4 linked regions of the Homo sapiens genome follow. The protein of the gene in region 2 purifies or fractionates together with the protein of the main gene of each other region. This does not show direct contact. Each region holds a gene or a part of one and is shown on either strand. Other genes may lie near its edges.

What was found. Proteins that work in one complex are often made in the same cells at the same time.
Region 1: the proteins of CSNK1E (region 2) and CRY2 purify together in Homo sapiens (co-immunoprecipitation; 4 studies listed by BioGRID and IntAct, with this or other methods). This does not show direct contact.
Region 3: the proteins of CSNK1E (region 2) and FAM110B purify together in Homo sapiens (affinity purification with mass spectrometry; 4 studies listed by BioGRID and IntAct, with this or other methods). This does not show direct contact.
Region 4: the proteins of CSNK1E (region 2) and FAM199X purify together in Homo sapiens (affinity purification with mass spectrometry; 4 studies listed by BioGRID and IntAct, with this or other methods). This does not show direct contact.

The regions. Positions count from the first base shown.
Region 1 is NC_000011.10:45,878,475-45,881,109, reverse strand, and holds part of CRY2 (cryptochrome-2), read right to left. Parts: intron 197-2,635; 3' UTR 1-196. UniProt on the Homo sapiens protein: Transcriptional repressor which forms a core component of the circadian clock.
Region 2 is NC_000022.11:38,307,434-38,310,933, forward strand, and holds part of CSNK1E (casein kinase I), read right to left. Parts: intron 1-3,500.
Region 3 is NC_000008.11:58,001,023-58,004,522, reverse strand, and holds part of FAM110B (protein FAM110B), read right to left. Parts: intron 1-3,500. UniProt on the Homo sapiens protein: May be involved in tumor progression.
Region 4 is NC_000023.11:104,165,169-104,169,252, reverse strand, and holds the start of FAM199X (protein FAM199X), read right to left. Parts: upstream 2,801-4,084; 5' UTR 2,468-2,800; coding exon 2,271-2,467; intron 1-2,270.

The DNA of each region.
Region 1 (2,635 bases), on a different chromosome or scaffold from region 2:
ACATTCAGAATCATGAGTGTCAACAGATGCATGCACACACAAACAGGCACACCACTCCCTCCTCTGCACACGCGCACACACACACACATGCTCGCTCTATCTCTGCCCGGTGATCAGCTTCTCTGCAGGTTGTACTCTGCTGCTGCGGTGGCTGCTTGGGCACCCAGGCTTTGCTCACGGAGCAAGGGCTCTGCAGCTGGAAGAGAAAAACAAGTGCAAAAGGAGCATTCAGGAGGCTGCTCAGTTGCCCAGGGACACAAGCTCCTCTGGCTGCTTCTCTGGGGACATTCAGAGCGGGACCTGAGAAGAGCTGAAAGAGTGAGCTGAAAGGGCCACGGTACCTGGGGACAGGTTGTTGCTGGGATGCCACTGGGATGAGGGAATACTGCCCCTCTGAGGTGCTGATGCAGGACAAGCTCCCCACTGCAGGCCCTCCACCCAGGGCTGCGGACAGCAGAGGAGGAGGAGGACAAGGCTATGTGAGAGTCACGTGAAGCCCTGGGGGATACTTGCTCAGATATGACAAGGGCAGCTTCTGAATCAAGGCACAGCAGCTGCTGCCAGAGATGGAGAATCAGGAAAAAATGGCTGGAAGAGAAGCCCGCTGGGACCAGTAATTTTGAAGAGTAAGGCAATGACTGAGTTTACAATCAGCAGGTGAGCACATTTCCACATATAGATGAAAGCACCCTGGCACAGTGCTGGAAGATTGTGGGGGCAGGAGGGAGAGAGGAGACACAAGGATGACTCATTTTAAAGATTTATGACATCCGGAATCTGGGGCAAAGAGAAGAAACAGCTTCATCCCTGATAATAAAGGAAGGACAGAGTGCGCCTGTCACAATGCTGAGTTGTCTGTTTAAATAGGTTTAGTGTGTCTGGGAGTCTACAGAGACACACAGCGTCCCATTAAAAGTTTGTGCAGTTTAAATGTGGGTGAGGTAGACAATAAGTAGGCTTACTAAGCCTGCCGTGGGTCAGGTACTATACACTTGTGCTGTGGCTGAATTCTGTCCCCCACAAAATTCTTATGTTGAAGTCCTAACCCCCAGTACCCCAGAAGGTGACTGTATTTGGAGACAGGGTCTTTAAAGAGGTAATTAAGTTAAATGAGGTCATTAGTGTGGGCCCTAATCCAATATGACTGGTGTCCTTAAAGGAAGAGGAAATTTAGACCCAGACAGTACAGAGGGAAGACCATGTGAAGACATAGGGAGAAGATGGCTGTTTATAAGCCACAGAGAGGAGCCTCAGAAGAAAAGAAGCCAACCCTGGCAACATTTTGATCTTAGACTTCCAGCCTCCAGAACAGTGAGAGGACACATTTCTCTTGATTAAGCCACCCAGTCTGTGGTACTTTGTCATGGCAGCCTGAGCAGACTAACACAACTTGAGATCCCAGTAACCTTGAAGCTTGCCCTCCATTTTTGTAGATGAGAAAACAGAAACCAGAGAGGAGAAGGAACTTGCCCAGGACAACAGCATTCATAAGTGGCAGAGCCAAAAAAGGAAATCCACATCTGTCTGATTCTCAAATCTGTCTTTTTACTAGCAAGTAATCTCTATACGATAGTATTGCTCATTAAGACTTTTAGAGAAGAAGACTTTTAGAAGAAATTCAACATGGCAGCATGAAGACTAATATCCAACAGACATACATGTGAATTAAGCTGTTATTAGAAAAGGGAAAATGCTCTTAAAGTCAAAGACATTGGAGACAAGGATTCAGTATCATGCGATGCTTTTAAGGCCGCATGGTAAATCTGAAGCAGATTTTATCTGATGATAATTTATCTGGAAGCTGGGCAAAATAAAGAGCAGACATAAGAGTGGGTGCCTGTATAGGTCAGTACTGTGTGTCTTATTCTTTTTTTTTTTTTGAGACAGAGTTTCACTCTTAGTGCCCAGGCTGGAGTGCAATGGAGTGATCTTGGCTCACTGCAACTTCTGCCTCCCAGGTTCAAGCGATTCTCCTGCCTCAGCCTCCTGAGTAGCTGGGATTACAGGCATGTGCCACCACACCTGGCTAATTTTGTATTTTTAGTAGAGATGGGGTTTCTCCATGTTGGTCAGGCTGGTCTCTAACTCCTGACCTCAGGTGATCCACCCACTTCAGCCTCCCAAAGTGCTGGGATTACAGGAGTGAGCCACCGAGCCCGACTTTTTTTTTTTTTTTTTTTTTTTTTTTTAATAGATGGAGTCTTGTTCTGTTGCCCAGGCTAGAGTGCAGTGGCGCGATCTTGGCTCACTGCAACTTCTGCCTCCTGGGTTCAAGCAATTCTCCTGCCTTGGCCTCCCAAGTGGCTGGGATTACAGACACCTGCCACCACAACTAATTTTTGTACTTTTAGTAGAGATGGGGTTTCACCATGTTGCCCAGGCTGGTCTTGAACTCCTGATCTCAGGTGATCCGCCCCCCTCAGCCTCCCAAAGTGCTGGGATTACAGGCGTAAGCCACCGCACCTGGCTGTGTGTTTTATTCTTTAAAATGTGTGTTATTTTCAATAATTTTTCCCTTTAAGCTTGTACTATAATAACCTAGCCATTTTTTTGCTACAAATGTATGTATTATTAAGGTGTACATGTATTTATTGAAATGTGCTGATTCTGAGTATATACTCCACACACAGGGCTC
Region 2 (3,500 bases):
CCCAGCTCTCAGGAGGCTGAGGTAGGAGAATCTCTTGAACCTGGGAGGCGGAGGTTGCAGTGAGCCGAGATCACACAACTGCACTCCAGCCTGGCGACACAGCGAGACTCCGTCTCAAAACAAAAAAAAGTATACAGAGGATGCGCGTAGCTTATATACAAATACTACAGCTTTTTATATCAGGAACTTGAGAATCAGAGGATTCTGGTATCTGAGGGGGATCCTGGAACCTATTCCCCACAGGTACCGAAGGTGGAGGGCTGTATTTTCTTTTTCTTTTTGAGACAGGGTCTCAATCTGCCACCCAGGCTGGACTGTAGTGGCACTAACACAGCTCACTGCAGCCTCAACCTCTGGGGCGCAAGTGAGCCTCCCACTTCAGCCTCTCGAGTAGCTGGACTACAGGCGCAAGCCACCACACCTGGCTAATTTTTGTATTTTTTGTAGACAGGGTTTGCCATCTCTAGGCTGGTCTCCAACTCCTGGGCTCAAGTGATTCACCTGCCTCAGCCTCCCAATGTGCAGGAATTACAGGCATGAGCCACTGTGCCTGGCCCAGGAGGGCTGTATTTTCATCACCCTGAAAACACCTGTAGCCTTTAGTGGGGTAAGGTCCTATCTCCTCGCTCCATCCCCTGCCCCCCAACTAATCTACATTCTGTCTCTATGGATTTGTCTTTTCTGGACATTTCACAGAAATAGAATCAAACAGAATCATACAACGTGATTTTTTGTGACTGGCTTCTTTCACTTAACACATTTTTGTGTTTTGATTTTTGAGTATTTGGATTTTTAATAAAAGAAAAAGAAAAACAGAATGAATAACTCAATCTAGCCAGCAACAGGAATGAAAGTACTTTGCAAACTGTAAAGAGCTTTTGACACATCAATGCTCGTCACTGGGATGAGCCACACAGGTTTCCAGGGGACAGTGAGGATCCTTAGAGTCCCCTGGCCATGCTCCATTTCCCCATGAGCAGAGAGGCAGGAGAGTGCAGCGGTTGAAGTGTGAGTTTCAGAGCCAACCTACTAGAGCCCAAATCCTGACTCGGACATCCCCTGGCCAGGGGTCGTCGGACAAGGCACTTCACCCCTCTGAGCCCCAGGTACCTCATGTGTAAACCGATGACACTATCTGGCTCATTGGGATGTTCTGACAGACAAACATGCTTACAAGAGTGCCTGGCACACAGTCAATGCTCCATGATGTTCGGCTTGGTGGGAAGTGCAGCCCCTAGGCTAGAGATGAGCCGGTGTCCACCCAGTGGGAGGAGGGGAAGAGGGAATAAGCCATGCTATGAGGAAAGGAGAGCCTCCGGGAGGGCAGGCTGCAAGGGCTCCTGGCTCCCAAACAGGACTGTACTGGACAGACAAGAGAGGTCACGGCACAAGCAGAGGCCCAACAGCAGCAGGTGCAGCGGGAACCATGGGGTGGCAGAAAAAGACAGTGGAAGAGGTGGGCAGGGAAGAGATCTGAAGGGTCTTGAATGGCCGGCTAAGATCCTGGCCTTCAGCCTGAGGCACCAAGGGCCATGTTCAGGTGTGTGATCACAGGATCTCTCAACCGTGGCACTACTGACACTGGAGCTGGAGAATTCCTGGTTGTGGGGCTGCCCTGGGCACTGCACAGTCTAACAGCACCCATGACTTCTACCCACTAGATGCCAGGGCACCCCTTTCCCCCTGAATTGTAACAACCAAAAGGTCTCCAGATCTTGACATATGTCTCCTGGGGGACAAAAATCACCCTGTTGAGGCTACCTGGTGGATACGAAAGGGCTGGAGGAGGCTAGAGGGGTAGTGGAAGGCCTGGGAAGGCCACTACAGAGACCAGGCAAGAGCTGACGGTGGCCCTGCCTGGGCAGGGTGCAGAAACTGATTGACACTTTGGAGGCAGGGCCTGCAGCACTTGGTGATTCGGCAGATGTGTGCAGGGAGGAGAGGTGCTGGGGAGGTAGTGGTAGACAGGGCCCTCTTCCCCTCGAGCCCTTACTCCACTCTTCGAGTACTACTGTTTGTATTTCTTTTTTCTTTTTTTTTTGAGACAGCTTCACTTTGTCGCCTGGGCTGGAGTGCAGTGGCATGATCTCGGCTCACTGCAACTTCTGCCTCCCGGGTTCAAGCGATTCTCATGCCTCAGCCTCCCGAGTAACTGGGATTACAAGCAGACACCACCACGCCTGGCTAATTTTTGTATTATTAGTAGAGATGGGGTTTCACCATGTTGGCCGGGCTGGTCTCAAACTCCTGACCTCAAATGATCTGCCCGCCTTGGTCTCCCAAGTGCTGGGATTACAGGCGTGAGCCACTGTGCCTGGCCTACTGTTTGCATTTCTGTTTGACATGTGGAAAAACAGACACCAAAGGTCAAATGATCATATGCTACAAACTTCCCAGGGACAGGGACCCAAGCTGCTAGGCAAAGCCTCTGACCCCCGCAAGTGCTGGAAACCTGCCAGAGCTGCCTCCCCCTGCAGCAGGTCCTGCCACCAATGAGTTCCTTGGTGGCCTCTAAATTCTATCAGGAAGCCGCCAGGCTTTTCTCTGAGCTCCCTTAATTCTTACAACCGCTAAGCTGAGGTTCAGAAACGTTAGGTAACTGGCCTAAGGTCTGACAGAACTGGATGGGGCACAGCCAGAATTTGAAACTTAGTCCCCAAAGTCCCTGTGTTTTTTCTCCACTCAAACTCCAGGTGAGGCTTCCTGGCAGAGGCTGTGTCTGGGAGCCGGCTGAGCATAGATGCAGGGGTGCCCCACATGCGAAGGCCTAGAAGCTAGAACTGCCCGATTTCAGGAACAGAAGATGCCCCATGAGTCAGACACAGTGGAGGGAATGCCAGTTCCCAAAACAAACTTGGACACAGAAAAGGGCTTGGACTTGGCTGGCCCTAGAGGGGCTGGGAACTTGGCAAGTTCCAGGTGGCCACGGGCGTGGCCAGCCTCACACGGGGGCCTACTTGACACCTACACAGACACATGGACACAATCGGGGACATGGGTGGACTGGAGGACAGGGGATGAAGCCCACCGTCCCGGCAGCAGCAGCGGCGGCAACCTCAGTTCCCACCCATCAGAGGCCTGGAGTATTTCCCACACTAACTCTCACCCCTGGAACCACCTGTCAGCGAACAACACTGTTCGCCACCCCTTTCAGAGCTGAGGACCAGAGACTCTAAGAGGTCTAGAGAGTTCCCCAGGATGCAAGTCTAGCAAATGGGCCCAGATTTGGCCACCTCTGGACCCTGCATGGGCAACAGCAGTGCCTTAACAAAGCAGGCCCCACTCTCTTGGCTGACCCCTTATGATGCAGAGGGAGAAGGGGCAGAAGCCACATCCATAGTGTGCTGGCCCTCGGGTGATCCTGGAAAGCAGGGCTTGGAGGACGCATCCAGCCCCACCGGCAGAGGCCATCTGGAGTCAGGCCCTGGCAGAGCACTGGGGATAAGAATGTGGCCAGAGTGTTGAATAAATGGAGCCAGCAAGGCTGGCCGGGGACGCCC
Region 3 (3,500 bases), on a different chromosome or scaffold from region 2:
TCCACCCACCTTGGCCTCCCAAAGTGCTGGGATTACAGGTATGAGCCAGTGTGCCCGGCAGTTCATGAGATTTAAGGAAAGAAGCCATCTCCATAACATAGAAGTGCAAGGTGAAGCAGCAAGTGCTGATGTAGAAGCTGCACAAGTTATCTAGAATATGGAGCTAAGATCATTGATGAAGATGGCTACAACTAGACAACAGGTTTTCAGTGTAGACAAAATGGCCTTATATTGGAAGAAGATGTCATCTAGGACAGGGGACCCCAATCCCTGGGTTTAGGAACTAGGCTGCACAGCAAGAGGTGAGTGGCAGGCAAGCAATCCATCTTCTGTCAGATCAGTGGAGGCATTAGATTCTCAAAGGAGCACGAACCTTATTGTGAACTGTGCATGCAAGGGATCTGGGTTGCGTGCTTCTTAGGAGAATCTAATGAAAAATGTAATGAGCTTGAATCATCATGAAACCATCCCCCTCCCCCACCCCATCCCCCAGTCCGTGGAAAAACTGTCTTCCACAAAACTGGTCCCTGGTGCCAAAAATGTTGGGGACTGCTGGTCAAAACTTTCATAGCTAGAGGGAGAAGTCAATGTCTGGCTTCAAAGCTTCAAAAGACAGGCTGACTCTCTCATTAGAAGCTAATGCAGTTGGTAACTTGAAGTTGAAGCCAATGCTGACTTACCATTCTGAATGTCCCAGGGCTCTTAAGAATGATACTAAGTCTACTCTCTCAGTGCTCTACACAACAAAGCCTGGATGACAGCACATCTGTTTACAGTATGATCTACTGAATATTTTAAGACCATTGTTGAGACCCACTGCTCAGGAAAAAGATTCCTTTCAAAATATTACTGCTCAATTACAATGCCCCTGGTCACCCAAAAGCTCTGATAGAGATGTACAAAGACATAAATGTTGTTTTCATGCCTGCTAACACAACATTCATTCTGCAGCACATGGATCAATGAGTAATTTCAACTTTCAAGTCTTATTACTTAAGGAATACCCTTTGTAAGGCTATAGCTGCCATAGATACTGATTGCTCTGATGTATCCAGGAAAAGTGGAAAAGTAAATCAAAAACCTTCTGGAAAGGATTCACCATTCTAAATACCATTAAGAACGGTCATGATTCATGGGAGGAGATCAAAATATTAACATTAACAGGAGTTTGGAAGAAGTTGATCCCAACTCTCATAGATGACTTTGAGAGGTTCAAGACTCCCATGGAGGAGTAATTGCAGATCCGGTGGAAATAGCAAGAGAACTAGAGTTACAAGCGGAGCCTGAAGATGTGACTGAATTGCTGCAATCTCATGATAAAACTAACAGATGAGGAGTTGCTTATTATGGATGAAAAAATAAAGACTCATTTCTTGAGATGGAATCTACTCCTGCTGAAGATGCTCTAAACACTGTTGAAAGGACAACAAACAATTTAGAATATTACATAACTTAGTTGATAAAACAGTGGCAGGGTTTGAGAAGACTGACTACAATTTTGAAAGTTCTACTATGGGGAAAGTGCTATCAAACAGCAACACATGCTCTAGAGAAATCTTTGGTGAAAGGAAGAGTCAGTTGATGCAGCAAACTTCATTACTGTCTTATTTTAAGAAACTGCCACAGCTACCCAAACATGCAGTAACTGCCACCCTGATCAGTCACCAGCCATCAACACTAAGGCAAGAACCTCCAGCAGCAGAAAGAGTATGACTTGCTGAAGGCTCAGATGATCATCAGCATTTTTTAGCAATAAAGTATTTTAATTAAGGTATGTACATTGTTTTCTTAGACAATGCTATTGCACACTTAATAGACTACAGTATAGTTTAAGCATAATTTTTATATGCACCCAGAAACCAAAAAATTCAAGTGACTCACTTTATTGTAATACTCACTTTATGGTGGTGGTCTGGAATCAAACCCACAATTTGTCTCCAAGGTATGCCAGTAGATACTGTCTTCATTGTGGATGAACTTACTGTCTTACAGAAGATACACTCACAAAACCAAGAATACACCAAAAATGCTGCCATCAATTGGTTCAATAAAGGAAGTGTTGGTCAGGAAGGAAAAAGTATGATGTTGCTAGCACTACTGAGAAAGACTTTGTAGAGAAGCAGGACTTAGAGAAGTGGTACCTGGTGTTAACACTCTTGGAGTCAGCTCATTTAAACCAACTTGGGAAGTATACTTTTACAAAAATGTTTTAACAAAACCTGACTCTGATTGTATTACAGATATGTGATTGTTAATTTTATGTGTCTACTTGATTGGTCTACTGGGGTGCCCAGATATCTTGTTAAACATTATTTCTGGCTGTACCTGTGGGTGTTTCTGGAGGAAATCAGCATTGAATTGATGGACTGAGTAAAGGAAAAGGCCCTCCCCAATGTGGGTGGGCATTATCCAACCAGTAGAAGGCCCAAATGGAACAAAAAGGTGAAGAAAGATTGAATTCTCTCTGTCTCTCTCTCTGTCTCTCTCTTTCTCTCTCTCTCTCTCTAGCTGCTTAGCTAATACATCTATATTTTCCTGACCTTATACTAGAACTTATACCATTGGTTCTCCTGGGTCTCCATCTTGGAGACAGCAGATCATGGGACTTCTCAGCCTCCATAATCATGTAAGACAATTCCTTGTAATAAATCTCTTTTTTTCTATGTATATTCTATTGGTTCTGGTTCTCTGGTTCTCTCACTAATACAAGGTATATGTGAATAATTAATACCATCTGGTAAAATGAAAAGTCCAAAGAAAATGAAGATACTTAAGTATCTCTGGCACAAAACGTATAAAGGTATTTGCTAATATGCCGGTATGCTTAATTAAAGGGCCCTGCGATTTGGTCCCTTTATGGATAACTCACAGTACCTAAACAGCAGCATGCTTCACACTGAAATTACTCAGAAAAAGGCTGGTAGAGATAACAACCAGGGATGAACAATCAAAACAGTTCGATCTTGTAACGCTAGTGAATCCTGGAATGAAAAATACCTGTAAGAAAAATCAAACAAGCAAATCAGGCCACATGAGTTAAAACACATGTCACATTGAGGCAAGGGCAGAGCCACTTCTAACTGGAAAAACAGGAAATGCTATGTGTATACTGAACACTAGGCCCCTTTCTCACACACACACACACACCTGCACACACTAGCTCCATGACAAGTGTGGCACTTTCACTGCTTCCATGGAAAATTCATTTGAAGTCAATTTCCAAATAATACAGGCAGACCACAGATATTCTCTGGCACTACCTAAAAGAACATTTCAACTACCCACAAAATATATATTTATATGACTGTACTACTCTCCACCAATAAGAGAGGAACATACAGATTCACTAAGAAGAACTAGAAAAAAAAATCTTCATTAAATTAAGGAACTAAGTTACTAGGCAGGCAGTCTATCCCCGCAAAAACTGTGGCCACTTTACCAAAACATTATAAAACGGTTTATGGTTACACACCCGGGTGCATGTTGCAGGTTGGAACAAA
Region 4 (4,084 bases), on a different chromosome or scaffold from region 2:
GTTGCCTGAATTGACAAATGATGTGATGTGAAGGAAAAAAGTGACACATACAACTCCAAAATAAAAGAACTCCCTAAACTTTGCCCGATATATGATTTAGCTGTGTGCTTCTCCCTGAAAAGAAATGGCTGGAAGCCTATGGTCCTCTCAAGCACCATCTTGAGGAGGGGTAAGAAAGCAGAACATTGCAGAAGGATAATACATTTAAAAGGCAAGGTAGCCTAGGACAGAAACATCATGTGCTGTGAATATCGCTAATTTTGCTTCCCCTACTCTCTGCTGAAAAGGATACAGAGCATTAGAACCCCTGCCACCATGCCAAGCCTTGCGAAAAGTAGGGTAGGAGAGGGAAGTTAAAAAAAAAAAAAAAAAAAGCAAGCAGTAACTAGGAAAAATGCTTGACTTGGAAAAACTGGGGCTTGCAAAGAACCTCCTTCTCCCCTCCTCACTGCCCCATTGAAAAACAGTCCTGACCTCACCACAGTCTTTAAGGGAAAGAAAACACAGGAAAAAACGGGGAGGAGGAAGGAACAGAACAAGTTGTAAGAAACATATTATTCTCATAACTTCACTCCCCATCACCTCTACCCAGTTTTGGCAGTACTTACCCACAGCCTCTGCCCTCACTCCCTTGCCCTCATCATCACAGCAGGATCATTCTGAAATTATTTAACTTTCCTGGGTATGTGACTTGCTCCAAGGCTGCAAAACTTAAATGCCAAATATGTACAAAGGTATTCTTTTACATTATTTTTCAACATAAATAACCCTAAGCACACTTGATTTCATGAATATGTTACATTCACATTACAGTGACATCAGGGGTTAAATAGGCTTCTGTGAGTTGGTCTAGGAAACCATAAGTTCTATTTGTAACACTGGATCAATTAGTTCTGCTCCAAGTTTAATCATTGGCTTCAAAGGAATAGTCTTGGATTTGCTTGACTAGGTTTTATGACCTTGAACTCAATCTTTTCTTTCTGGGCCTGTTTCTTCATTTTTTGCAATGACGATTTAGAGTAGTCATAATAAATTTACTGCCACTTCCTTTTGAGATGTGTTATACTGATATTCTGATTATTTAACTATAACACCTTGTTTCCATAGACTATAACTTTCATTTATGTAAGAAACATCTTTTACACATTCCTTGTATCTGGTAGAAGCTCATTCAATCTACAGACTGATTTAAGGGAAGGGAGGGGAGAAATATGCTAAAGACATTAAAATATGGAAGAATTTGATCAAACTCACATCATAAACTTGGATCAGAAGTCAGAACTAGATTTCTTAATTTATCTCCAGTATTTTCCATAGCTGAACCCCTCTCCTAGAGCCTTAACCACACACCCCCCCAGCCCTTTGTATATGTATCTCAAATATCCACCTATGTTAAAACTTGAGGCTGTATCTAGAACGTCTTCAACCCACCCCCCAAGATTTGATCTAACACGTAAATGCTTGCATGAGAGAAGTCTCCAGAACACTACCTTCTACTGAAATCAGTTAGGAGGAGATACACCCTCTGAATAAATTTGTGTAAGTCAGTCCATCCTAAGCCTTACTCTGTCTCTTCAAAGGGGAAGGAAACCAAGGGATATGTCATATGAAGGAATCCTCCAGATTTAAGCTTACCAATTTTGGCAGAGCCTAAAGCGCTAAGGCAAACAGTTAATAAAGGAGGAGGAAAAAAAGAGAGAATCGACTAGTTTCCTAGCGCTCAACTAAAAAAAAAAATGGGGTAGGGGTGGTGGCGGCGGGGGGAACAGGACTGTGAGACAGATTAAAAATAGGGAAAATGAAGCTTCTAGCTTTAAATGTTCCACCTTTCAACGCCACTTTTCAAAAGATCTATGGATTGATCTTGAGCCATCCAAATTCCTCTACAGCGTACCGGAAATGGAAGGGGTTAAACTTTTGCAGATGGATGCAAACAGGGGCGTATCTAAAAATCAAGGGTGGGGGTTTGGGATTCGTAGGGTACAGATGGGGGGAGGGAAGGGAAGCAAGGGAGGGAGAAGGTAGGGAAGGGAGGAGTCGCTATAGCCAGAATATGAATGAGGAAAAGAGAGTAAAACGCCGGTCGAAAGGAAAATAGGAGGGCAGGGGTGAAAATAGGGAGGGGGGGCAGGGAAGGAGGCCGGGAATGAGCGCTGGTCGAAAGCAGGTGGGGGAGGGGGCGACTGGAAGCGCAGCCCGGGACGAAGGATCAGGAGCGGGGGGCGACCAGAAGTGGAAAATCCACCCCTGCCCTCAGGTGCAGTTCGTACCTGTTGGTGTGGAAGCGGTGGAGCGGGTCGGTGCGATGGCAGGAGGACAGCTGGCAGCCGAAGTCGCTGATGTCCAGGCAGCCCGGCTCCTCGCTCGGGCAGGTGCCCACCCCGCGAGGAGGTCCCAGGAGTGGGAAGGGCTCCTCGGGGGTTAGAAACTTCTCGTAGGAAGTGATGGCCGAGGCCTCGTCGGACATGGTTGGAGATGGCCTGGCTCGGGCTCCCTCTCTGGCCCTGGGCTGCTCCCGCGCCCGCCCCTGCCCCCACTCTAACCTGTCCGCAGTCGCCGACGCTCCGGGGTGTGCCCGTCGCAGCTCACTGGCAGGCTGGGCGTCGCGGCCCGCTGCTGCTTGCCGGGGTGCGGGGCCGCGCGAAGAGGCTGCTCGAGGCCACAGCGGCCCACCGGCCACCCAGTTAGCGCCCCGGTGGCCTCTGCAGCTTCCGCCGCCGCCAGACTCAGCCCGTCAGCGCAGCGCCGCCGCCCGGCCCGGCCAGGCCCGCCCCGCCCACTGCGCTCGCCGCTTGCGACTGCAGCAGTCTGCCCGGCGCCCGCAAGGAGGGGAAGGGCGGCGGGAAGCCACTCCCCGTGCCCCCTGCTGGACCGGAGGAGGAACTGAACCTCCGCCCGCCGCGGCCCCAAGCGGCCCGCCCCGCCCTCTACGCATCGAATCAGGGATTCAGGCCGCTAGAAAGGCTAGGCGCCTCTGGCCAACCTCCTCCTCCGCTTTCTCACTCGTACTCGACTACTAAGCAGGAACCGCAGTCCCAGAAAAGGGACTTGGCCAAGGTCACACTGCGGGTGCGTGAGAAAACATCCAGATGCCCTGGTTCCCAGCGCACTCTTTCATTCTGTCCCAATTCAACAAGTATTTATTGAGCTCCTGCAGTGTGTGCCCAGCACCGTGCAATGAGGTGTAGGAGAAATCGTCCAAGCAGGGAAAATAGTCCCTTCCTCACCCTTGATCACCTAACTCCAAGAACCCTACGCTGCAGCCACTCGCCTACTCAGAGCTGCTGGACACGTCGTACTCTTTTGTGCTTTGCGCCTTTTGCTCATAGGCACCCTGCTTGGAATGCCCTGCCATTTCTCCCCTGCTAATCCTTCAAACTCCAGCTCAAACGTTATCTCCTCAGTGAAGCCTTCCCTGACTCCCAAAGGAGACTAAGGCACACCTGCTAATTTGCCCCCTCCCTCCCGTAGAAAATATATTATGGAGCTTAACTTGTTCAACTTGAATCAACTTGTTAGGTGTTATATAGTGTACTTTGCTGTTTATCTCATCTCTCTTCTCTATATTCTGGGCAAGTGATTCCTGTTCTTGGATGCGTAAGATTAAAAAAAAATAGAGGAAACCCCAAGATTACTAATTTCTTACTTTGCCCAAAGAAGACAATTTTTAAAACTACCTAATATTATTTTATAAAAGGAAGCACATTTTCATATAAGAGCATAATTCTTCAATAAAAGCAATTCTTTGCATTAACTATATTTATGAAGAAACTACATTGATCCTTCAGGAAAGCATAGAACTTAAATAGGCGGAAAGGAGGGGAAAAATGAAAGAAGGCAGGAGGAAGAAGAGAAAGAGGGCAGGAGAAGTGGGGGGTTGTCACTAAAACAAGCCCCATTCAGTATTAAACTCTGTGCCTTGCCCTACCAATGCAACTTATAGTGAAAACAGCTTCTCCAACGTGCCTTTAAAATGTATACATTATCTTGCTTCAGTTACTTGGTTGTTTGACTGTTGAGCATGCCGGCTTTCTTTCATTGAGATTGCAAGAAGGTGTGTTGCATTGTGTATGTGGCTTTCAAA